Linked DNA regions of Homo sapiens: region 1 is linked to region 2. The links come from fine-mapping of genetic effects on gene expression. A gene starts in region 2. The other region holds a variant in brackets. All regions are shown on one strand. Distances are between the middles of the regions.

Region 1 (5,371 bases), 210 kb before region 2:
TTCTCATCCTTCAAACAGATATATTGGCAGAAGTGGATGCTATATGGGCTTGAGGTGTTGGAACACAATGCTTATTCTAATCATTGGCTGAACACTGTGCTATGTAAGCATAGGGGTGATACTGCTGCGGGATAATTAAGGAATCAGAGAGACCGAGGGATTGAGGAGGAGTTATTTAATTATTTAGGTTCACTGACCCAGTTGGATTAACATCCAAAGGACTGAGCCTGGAACAAAGAGTCAAGCTACCTTTTAAGCATTTCGTGGGGTGGGGGGAGATCTGTGCGGGGGGAAGCGTATTATAGAAGCGAGAGACAAAGACAGTTATTCAGTTAAGGCATGCATTACATTATTTCTTACTGTTCAAGGAACAACATGTTTTACGACTTGAGATTATCTGTCTAGTGACCTTGCAGCTGCACAGCTAGAGAAACAGAGTCTTCACAATGCCTGGTAAATGGAGAGATAAGGCTCACTAGCCACAGAGAGAAAAACAGGCAGTTAATTTTAAAGGACTCCAGCCCTTTCTGTTCCTCAAGGGGGAATTGGGTTTTCTTACATACAACTGAGTTTTTGCTTACACAGTCTTTAATTTTTTTTTTTTTTTTGAGACAGAGTCTCACTCTGTTGCCCAAGCTGGAGGGCAGTGGCGCCATCTTGGCTCACTGCAAGCCCCGCTTCCCAGGTTCACGCCATTCTCCTGCCTCAGCCTCCCGAGTAGCTGGGACTACAGGTGCCCGCCACCATGCCTGGCTAATTTTTTTGTATTTTTAGTAGAGATGGAGTTTCACCGTGTTAGCCAGGCTGGTCTCAAACTCCTGACCTTGTGATCCACCCACCTCAGCCTCCCAAAGTGCTGAGATTACAGGCATGAGCCACTGCGACCGGCCTACAGTCTTTAATTTCTTTTAATTCCTGTTCTAATCCTTGAGGGAACATTTTTTTTTTTTTGAGACGGAGTCTAACTCTGTCGCCCAGGCTGGAGTGCAATGGCTCGATCTTGGCTCACTGAAACCTCCACTTCCCAGGATCAAGCAATTCTCCTACCTCAGCTTCCCGAGTAGCTGAGAGTATAGCTGGGTGCCACCATGCCCGGCTAAATTTTGTATTTTTAGTAGAGATGGGGTATCGCCATGTTTGCCAGGATGGCCTCAAACTCCTGACCTCAGGTGATCCATCCACCTTAGCCTCCCAAAGTGCTGGGATTACAGACATGAGCCACTGCACCTGGCTGGAAAAATTTATTATTATTATTATTTGAGATAGGGGTCTCACTCTGTCACCCTGGCTGAAGTATAGTGGCATGATCTCGGTTCACTGCAACCTCTGCCTCCCAGTCGCAAGCAATCTTCCTACTTCAGCTCATGAGTAGCTGGGACCACAGGTACATGCCACCACTACCTGCTAAGTTTTTGTATTTTTAGTAGAGATGGGGTCTTGGTATGTTGCCCAGGCTGGTCTCAAACTCCTGAGCTCAAGCCGCTTTGGCCTCCCAAAAGTGCTGGGATTAAAGGTGAGCCACCATGCCTGACCCCTGTGGGAAAATTTTAAAAACAAGAATAAATGGCCGGGCATGGTGGCTCATGCCTGTAATCCCAGCACTTTCGGAGGCCGAGGTGGGAAGATCACCTGAGGTCAGGAGTTGAAGACCAGCCTGACCAACATGGAGAAACCCTGTCTCTACTAAAAATACAGAATTAGCCAGGCATAGTAGTGCATGCCTGTAATCCCAGCTACTCACTACTCAGGAGGCTGAGGCAGGAGAATCACTTGACCCCTGGAGGCAGAGGTTGCAGTGAGCCAAGATCATGCCATTGCACTCCAGCCTGGACAACAAAAGCAAAACTCCATCTCAAACAAAACAAAACAAAACAAAACAAAACAAAACAAAACAAACAAACAAACAAAAAAAACGAGAATAAAAACTGAGCAGACACATTAGCAGCTGCACACTGTGGAATGATAGACTCTACAGTTTAACTCCAGACAAATGACACACACACACACATCAGCATCACCAGCATCACCACCATTCAGAAAAATACAATAGAATCCAGACTCTA[C/T]GGTTTAACTCCAAATTACACACACACACACACACACACACACACACACCCCATCAGCATCACCAGCATCACCACCTTTCGGAAAAATACAACAGAATCCAGAGTTATTACAGTCTATTATCTAAAATGACCAGTTTTTTAGAGGAGGAAGAGGATAAAATGATCAGTTTTCAAGAAAAAAATTATGACACATGCGAAGAAACCTAAAAAACAGTAACTCATATCCTGATTTTAAAAGTCAATGAAAACTAGCCGGGTGCAGTGGCTCACGCCTGTAATCCCAGCACTTTGAGAGGCCGAGGCGGGTGGATCACCTGAGGTCAGGTGTTTGAGACCAGCCTGGCCAACATGATGAAACCCTGTCACTACTAAAAATACAAAAATTAGTCAGGCATGGTGGTGGGCGCCTATAATCCTAGCTACTGGGGAGGCTGAGGCAGGAGAATTGCTTGAACCTGGGAGGCGGAGGTTGCAGTGAGCTGAGATCATTCCACTGCACTCCAGCCTGGGTGACAGAGCAACACTCTGTCTCCAAAAAAAAAAACAATAAAAAACAAAATAAAAACTGAGTCCAGGCACAGTAGCTCACACCTGTAATCCCAGCACTTTGGGAGGCCGAGGCTGGCAGATCACGAGCTCAGGAGATCAAGACCATCCTGGCTAACAAAAAAATTAGCCGGGCATTGTGGCGGGCGCCTGTAGTCCCAGCTACTTGGGAGGCTGAGGCAGGAGAATGGTGTGAACCTGGGAAGCGGGGCTTGCAGTGAGCCGAGATGGCACCACTGCACTCCAGCCTGGGTGATAGAGTGAGACTCTGTCTCAAAAAAAAAAAAAATAAATAAAAATAAAAACTGACTCTGAGTAGGCCCAGAAGTTGAATTTGGCAGACAAAGACTTTAAAGCACATATTATAAATATGTTCAAGGAATTAAATAAAAATGTTTAACAATGACTCAATAAATATGGAATCTCAACAGAGAAATAGAAGCTATAAAAAAAGAATCAAACAGAAATTCTAGAATTATAAAGTAAAATAACTGAAATGAAAATTTTACTAAATGAACCCAATAGCAGATTTAAGATAGCAGAGGAAAAATTTAATAAACTTGAAGATAGATCAATAATAATAATCTAGTCTGAATGACAGAGACAAAAATGATTGCAGGAAAGTGAACAGCTGGGTACAGTGGCTCACACCTGTAATCCCAGCACTTTGAGAGGCTGAGGCAGATGGATTGCTTGAGCCCAGGAGTTTAAGACCAGCCTGGGCAACATGATGAAACCCTATCTCAACAAAACATACAAAAGTAAGCTGGATATGGTGGTGTGCCCCTATAGTCCCAACTACTTGGGAGGCTGAGGCAGAAGAATCGCTTGAGCCTGGGTGGTCAAGGCTGCAGTGACCATGTTCATGTCACTGCACTCCAGCCTGGGTGACAAAGCAAGACTGTCTCAAAAAAAGAAACAAAAAAACCAAAAAACAAAAACAAAAAAACACCGAAAACAAAAAGACTCAGAGGCCAGTGGTACATCAAGCATGCCGATATACATGTAATACATGTCCAAAGGAGAGGAGACAAAGGGTCAGAAAAAAGTAGTTGAAAAAATAATACAAAGGCCAGGTGTGTAGCTCACACCTGTAATCCCAGTACTTTGGGAGGCCGAGGCGGGCAGATCACAAGGTCAAGAGATTGAGACCATCCTGGCCAACATGGTGAAACCCCATCTCTACTAAAAATGCAAAAATTAGCCAGGTGTAGGGGTGTGTGCCTGTAGTCCCAGCTACTCAGGAGGCTGAGGCAGGAGAATCACTTGAACCTGGGAGGCAGAGATTGCAGTGAACCGAGATCTTGCCACTGAACTCCAGCCTAGCGACAGAGTGAGACTCCATCTCAAAAAACAACAAATAATAATAATAGCCAAAAACTTTTCAAATTTGATGAAAAACATTACACATCTGAGAATCTCAATAAACCTCAAATACATAGACACATCACGGTCAACTTGTTTAAAGACAATTGGCTACCACATGTACAAAAATTCGAACAATTCAGAGAAGATTAGCCAGTCTCCTGTACAAGAATGGCATGCAAATTTGTGAAGCATTCCATATTTTTACATGTAAATAAAAGAAAAAATAAAAGCAAATGTACTATATATAGAGAGTAATACTACTGTGTTAAATACACAGATGAATACAAAAAATCTGAGCATGGAAGAATGAATTTAAAAATAAGTGATTACAATAAAAAGACAAAAAAGATCTTTCAGACAGCAAGAAAAAAAGACTCATCAAATATGGGGGAAGAAGTACACAATTAACGGCAGACTTCTCTTCAGAAACAATGGAGACCAGGAGGCAATGGAATGAGATATTTTAAGAGCTGAAAGAAAATTACGGCCATGTGTGGTGGCTCATGCCTGTAATCTCGGCACTTTGGGAAGCCAAGGCAGGTGGACTACTTGAGCTCAGGAGTTTGAGACTAGCCTGAACAACATGGCAAGGCACCATCACTACATAAAAATTTTTAAAAATTAACTAGTTCCAGCCTGGCCAACATGGCAAAACCCTGACTGTAATAAAAATACAAAAAAAAATTAGCTGGGCGTGGTGGCTAACACCAGTAATCCCAGCACTTTGGGAGGCCGAGGCAAGTGGATCACTTGAAGTCAGGAGTTTGAGACCAGCCTGGCCAACATGGCAAAACCCCGTCTCTACTAAAACTACAAAAAAATTAGCTGGGTGTGGTGGCGGGCACCTGTAATGCCAGCTACTCGGGAGGCTGAGGCAGGAGAATCACTTGAAGCTGGGAGGCGGAGGTTGCAGTGAGCCAAGATCACACCACTGCACTCCAGCCTGGGCAACAGAGCAAGACTCCATGTCAAAATAAATAACAAGGCTGGGCACGGTGGCTCACGCCTGTAATCCCAGCACTTTGGGAGGCAGAGGCAGGCAGATCATGAGGTCAGGAGATCGAGACCATCCTGGCTAACATGGTGAAAACCTGTCTCTACTAAAAATACAAAAAATTAGCCAGGTGTGGTGGCAGGCACCTGTAGTCCCAGCTACTTAGGAGGCTGAGGCAGGAGAATGGCATGAACCTGGGAGGCAGAGCTTGCAGTGAGCTGAGATCTTGCCACTGCACTCCAGCCTGGGCAACAGAGCGAGACTCCGTCTCTAAATAAATAAATAAATAAATAACAAAATACAAAAAATTAGCTGGGCATGATGGTGCATACCTGTAGTCCCAGCTACTCGGGAGCCTGAGGTATGAGAATCACTTGAACCCGGGAGGCAGAGGTTGCAG
Region 2 (5,303 bases):
AGCATCCATCTTTCCAAAAATAGAAGGCACCTGAGGAGGTGGTGTGTGACAACATGGGTGACAACACCAGAGGGTAGGGGACCCTTCTCAGGAAGGAAGCTCCAGGCCTTGCTCCACAACCTCTGTTACATTCTCCAAAGAGTTTAGAAGTAACACTGGAGTTGGTGAGAATTCAGATACATGAGGAGAAGCGAAGAGGAGGAAACAGCCTGGAAATAGCCTCAGAAACCTCAGACACCCAGAAGTGACAACCATAAAAATAACCAGACAACCACTGCAAGGGACTGTGACTGCGACTGCCATTCACTTAATCCATTTTTCTTGACTACCCACCATGTGTACCGCATTTGCAAGATACAGTGAGCCCTTGGCTTCAAGGTGCTTGTGATCTAGTCACACAGTCAGGTGGACCACTGAATAACATATGAGCTGGGTCCCCGTCCATCTTTACACAGCTCTCCACTCAGTGCCTGGCTCAGGGTGGGCATGCTGTATTTACAGCATGAAAAAATGAATGGAAGAATGAACAGAAGTGCCCAATGCAGACATACACAGCATGTGTTATGGGCTCTTGACTTCAACCAGGGAGGTAGCATGTTTGAAGCCTGGGCAAGAGAAAATTAAAGCTCCCATGCATGTTAGGAAGTGATTGCCTGGACCGGAGTCTGAAATCTCGATTTGAGCTCTTCTCTCTCCCCCTTTCACATCGGAGAGAAGATAAAAACAACCAGATCGGACCAACTCATCTCAGCAAGAATGGAGGGAGTCCCTTCCTATGTTCACACTCCTTTTCTTAACTTTTCCACATTGGACAGCACCCAGAAAACCTCCAGTGTGTCCGTCGCAGGAAACACCCTCTCTTCTCATCTGTAATTTCCTTGAGAGCATTTCCTTGTCATATTCTGTATCCTCCACAGCCCTTAATGCCCTGTGCTCCTTTCCTCATATGGCTGCTGCGCAACAAATGCCCATGGAATGAATGAAAGGGCAGCAGTCTTGGAGATTTGCTGAACCTCCGAGGAGCCCTTTACTCGGTGGAACCGCAGAAAATGATGGAACTTCCAAATCAGTGGAGAAGACTGTTGGTTAAACCATTTCCTGAAGCTTTGAAATGCATATCTACACACTTGAGAGGTTACCATTCCTTATGCTCAAGAAGCATAAAAGTCATACACAAGCCTAGCTTTGCAATTCCCCTGAATATCAAAATTAAAATGAACCACATCTATAAAGGGGTCAAATGTAACCAAACAGGAATATCTCATTCAACGACTCTTCTAAACTGCTAACAAAATTCAATGGCTAGTACATTTCTGCAAAACTCCCCACCTCTAAAATAAGAGTTTTTCAAGAATTAAAAAACAGTCTAAGAATTTTAAATGGTCAGGAATTCCCAAATGGTGGAGGGAGAAAGGACCTTAGGAAACCTATCCTCACTGCCTCTTAGGTCTAAAGAAGCCTAGGGCTTAGCAGGCGCCCAGGGCTCCCCTTCGACTGAGAGGTGGTCCAAGGGAGGCTGTATTCTTACCGTCTCTTGCTGCTTAATAATCTTGCCCTTGTCCAGCTCGGGCCCCAGGGAGGAAGGGGAAGAGGACGCGGAGGAAGAGGAGCTGGAGCTGGAGCTACTGCTGCTGGGGTAGTTGCTCTTCCCGTTCTTCTCCTGAGTGTCCACCTTGATGAGCCTGTTGATGTAGGTGCTGCAGCCCGAGCTCTTGGTTGCACCCCGGTGGGGCTCCTCCTCCGTGGCCCGGGAGTTTTTGCGGCCCTTGCCCGCGGCGGCCTGAATCAGACCCTGCAGGCTGTCGCGGGACAGCCGGCTGTCCTTGGGGCCGACGCCGGCCCTGCCGCTCCCCAGCTCGGCCGCCGAGTTCTTGCGGCCCTTGCCAGGACCCGGCCCAGCGCCGCCCGCCTCCGAGTTCTTGCGCAATTTGCCGCCGCCGCCCCCGGGCTTGGCCCGCTCCGACACGGTCTTCAGGTTCAGGGGGAACTCCTTGAACCACTTGGCCGCCATGAGGGGGCCCCGGCCGGCTCGGCCCAGGAGCGTCGGGGCCGTGGAGCAGGCGAGCGAGGAAGCCCAGCCCAGACACGCAGAGGCGCCAGGGGTCGGGGACCACTGCATTCCCCGTGACTGGGGCGCTGGAGGCCGCGGCGAGGCCCCGCGACGGCTGCTCCGTGCGCCCCCGGCCGGCCGTCGCCCACGCCCGGCAGGGTGGGGTTCTCACGGCTCGGGGCGCCGAGCGGGCGGGCGCTAGCCTCTGCTCCGGACACGGCAGGCGACAGGCACGACGCGCGGGGGGCCCCGCCCGGGCTCGTCTTCAACGCCTGCCCGGCCCGAGGACACCGTGGCTCTCGGAGGCGGCGGGCGCCGGGGGCTTCCCCCTGCTCTTTCCTCCTGCGGTGGGAGAGGCCAGGCCCACGGAAGCCCCCTGCGGCCCAGCCCACGCTCCCAGGGACCAGAGAGGACCGAGCGGAGGCGGCGGGAGTATCCCCGGCGCAGCGACAGACGGTGGACGGACGGCGAGCGGCCCATCAACTCCGCGCGCCCCTCCCCTCCGCGGCTGGCGCCTCCCAGCCCCGCCACCTCCTGCCCAGAGCTGGGGGCGGCGGGGTGAGCGCCATGGCAGAGGCGGGTCGGGCTGCGAGCTCTGGAGAAAGGGGCGGCGGCCGCACGTGCGGATCGGCCGCGCCCCACTGAGCAGAGAGCCCCCTTCTGCCGCCGACAGCCCGCGTCTGCACCGAGCCGGTCTCGGCCGGGCGCTGCCTTCACACGCGCCCAGGAGTGTCACGTGCGCCGCTCACCCCCGGGAAGGAAGCCCCTCGCCCACCCACTCCGCTCTACTCCACTCTTTCTGCAGACGTTATTTTTGGCGGTAGGGCAGAGGTTGCGGCCCGAGGTCCGGGCGCAGGGACAACGGTCGCCAGCTCCTGCGCTAGTTCCGTTACTCTTCGGTGGCACACGGTCCTGGGCAGCGCGAGGCTCTTCCCGCCGTGGCCGCCGGGGATTGGCTGCCGGCAAGCCCCGCCCCGTGCCCCCGGGCTCAGAGGGGGCGGAGCGCGGAGGGAGAAGGCGCGAAGGCTGGGCGTCGCGATCGCAGGTGCACGCGCGTGGCCCGCGAGACGAGGTATGGCTTGTCGGCCCCAGGTCCCGGGATGCCAGGCGAGGGTTGGGAGGGAGGGGCGTCGGCAGGCAGCCATGGGAAACGCCCTCGTCCCGACTGATGGGGGAAAGGGGTCGCTGTTCCCGCGGGGCCGTCGCTCGCTCGCGCCGGTTGGGAGCGGCCCTCCTAGTCTGGATTTGTGCGGGCGGGGAGTGCCGTGTGCAGAACTGTGGCCACTTTAAGGGAAAAGACGCCTCTGCCATTCCTCCCTCCCTTCGAAGCCCTTTAAAAGCTTTCTGAGGCCGGGCGCGGTGGCTCACGACTGTAATCCCAGCACTTTGGGAGGCCGAGGCGGGCAGATCACCTGAGATCAAGAGTTCGAGACCAGCCTGGCCAACATGGTGAAACCTGGTCTCTACTAAAAATACAAAAATTAGCCGGGCGTGGTGGTGCGCGCCTATGGTTGCAGCTACTCAGGAGGCTGAGGCAGGAGAATCGCTTGAACCCGGGAGGCGCAGGTTGCAGTGAGCTGAGATCAAGTCACTGCACTCCAGCCTGGGCGACAGAGCGAGACTCCGTCTCAAAAAGACAAAAAACAAACAAACAAAAAAACACCTTTCTGGTTTAAAAAAAGAAATTTAAACTTAGTTTACTGAACGGAAATCTTTTGGTTTAGCAAACTAAATGTGCTGAAGGGGCTGACCAACACTGAGTCCTCATATACAATGGAAACAGAATGATGGCGACTGTGGACGGCCTCATTTGTGTGGGTGGTGGTTTGTGAGGTGGGAAAGCTAAAATGAAGAAATGCGTGCTCATACTGACGTTCTTGAAAATGCGTAGTGACATTTTTTTAAAGCTTTATTGAGATATAATTCACATACCATAAAATTCACCTGTTTTAAGTGTGCACCTCAAGTGTTTTCAGTATATTTGGTGTGTTTACAGTACAACCATCGCAACAATCTAATTTTAGAACATCTCCATCACCCCCAAAAGAAATCTCCCGTCAATTAGCAGTCACTCCTCATTTCCCTCTCCGCCTTCCCAGTCCTAGACAGCCACTAATCTACTTTCTGTCTATATAGATTTGTCTAGTCAGGACTTTTCAGAGAAGTGGAATCATGCAATATGTGGCCTTCTTTCCCTTAGCATCATTTTTCAGATTCATCCAGGTCGTATAGCATGTATTACTACTACATTCGTTTTATATTGCCAAATAATATTCTATTGTATTGCTATACAGCACTTTATTCATTCATCAGTTGATGGATATTTGGATTGTTTTCACTTTTTGGCTATTATAAGCAACACTGCTATGAATATTTGTGGAAAAGTCTTTGTGTGGACACATATTTGAATTTCTCTTGAATAGTTACCCAGGAGTGGACTTGCTGGGTCATATCGTAATTCCCTGTCTAACTTTTTGAGAGCCTGCCAAACTTTTCCAAAGTGGCTGCACCATTTTACATTCCTACCAGCAATATGAGGGCCCCTGTTTCTTCATGTCCTCAATACTTGTTAGAGATAGAGGATGTTGTCTGTATCTCTTGCTTTTAGCCACCCTGATTGATATGAAGTGTTATCTTTGTGGTTTTGATTTGCATTTTCCTAGTGGCCAAAGTTGCAGAGCATCTTTTCATGTGCTTATTGGCCATTTGTATATCTCCAGAGAAATGTCTAGCAGATCCTTTGCTCACTTTTTAATTGGTTTATTTGTTGTCTTTGTTGGTGAGTTGTAAGAGCTCCTTATGTATTCTTTAGGTCTTTTTAAAAACACAGATAAAGCCTGGCCAACATGGTGAAACCTCATCTCTACTAAAAACACAAAAATTAGCCATCGTGGTAGTGTGTGCCTGTAGTCCCAGCTATCTGGGAGGCTGAGGTGGGAGAATCGCTTGAATGTGGGAGGCAGAGGTTGCAGTGAGCCGAGATCGTACCATTGCACTCCAGCCTGGGCGACAGAGTGAGACCCTGTCTCAAAAACAAAAAACAACAACAACAAAAAACTACACAAATAGGTTACTTCTCCAGACCAAACAATAGATTGGAAGGAAACTCAGGACTTTGGAATCATGTGGTCATATGGTTTGGATTCACAACGAAAACAGGCTTCTCCCATTTGTGAGCATGGATGCTAAGTGATCTTGGCCAAATACTAGATTATCATCTCTGCATCTCCGGGACTTCATCTGTAAAACGGGT

The links. PIP is the estimated chance that this variant, and not a neighbour inherited with it, causes the effect. A credible set is the group of variants that fine-mapping cannot tell apart.
Region 1: its variant is the best candidate, but not a certain one, in a credible set for the expression of SHE in nasal epithelium (TOPMed, PIP 0.69).

Annotation. Positions count from the first base shown.
Region 1 is chr1:154,291,422-154,296,792 of GRCh38, forward strand. It overlaps the pseudogene RNU6-239P. Among named protein-coding and RNA genes, the nearest start is that of HAX1, 21 kb to the left of the region's middle. The variant C/T (reference allele first, on the strand shown) is at 2,064.
Region 2 is chr1:154,499,908-154,505,210 of GRCh38, forward strand. SHE (Src homology 2 domain containing E) reads right to left here and starts at 2,505. Exons shown (of 6, transcript NM_001010846.3): 1 at 1,529-2,505. The coding sequence starts at 2,119. It overlaps TDRD10 (tudor domain containing 10), which reads left to right and starts at 2,312. Exons shown (of 13, transcript NM_182499.4): 1 at 2,312-3,122.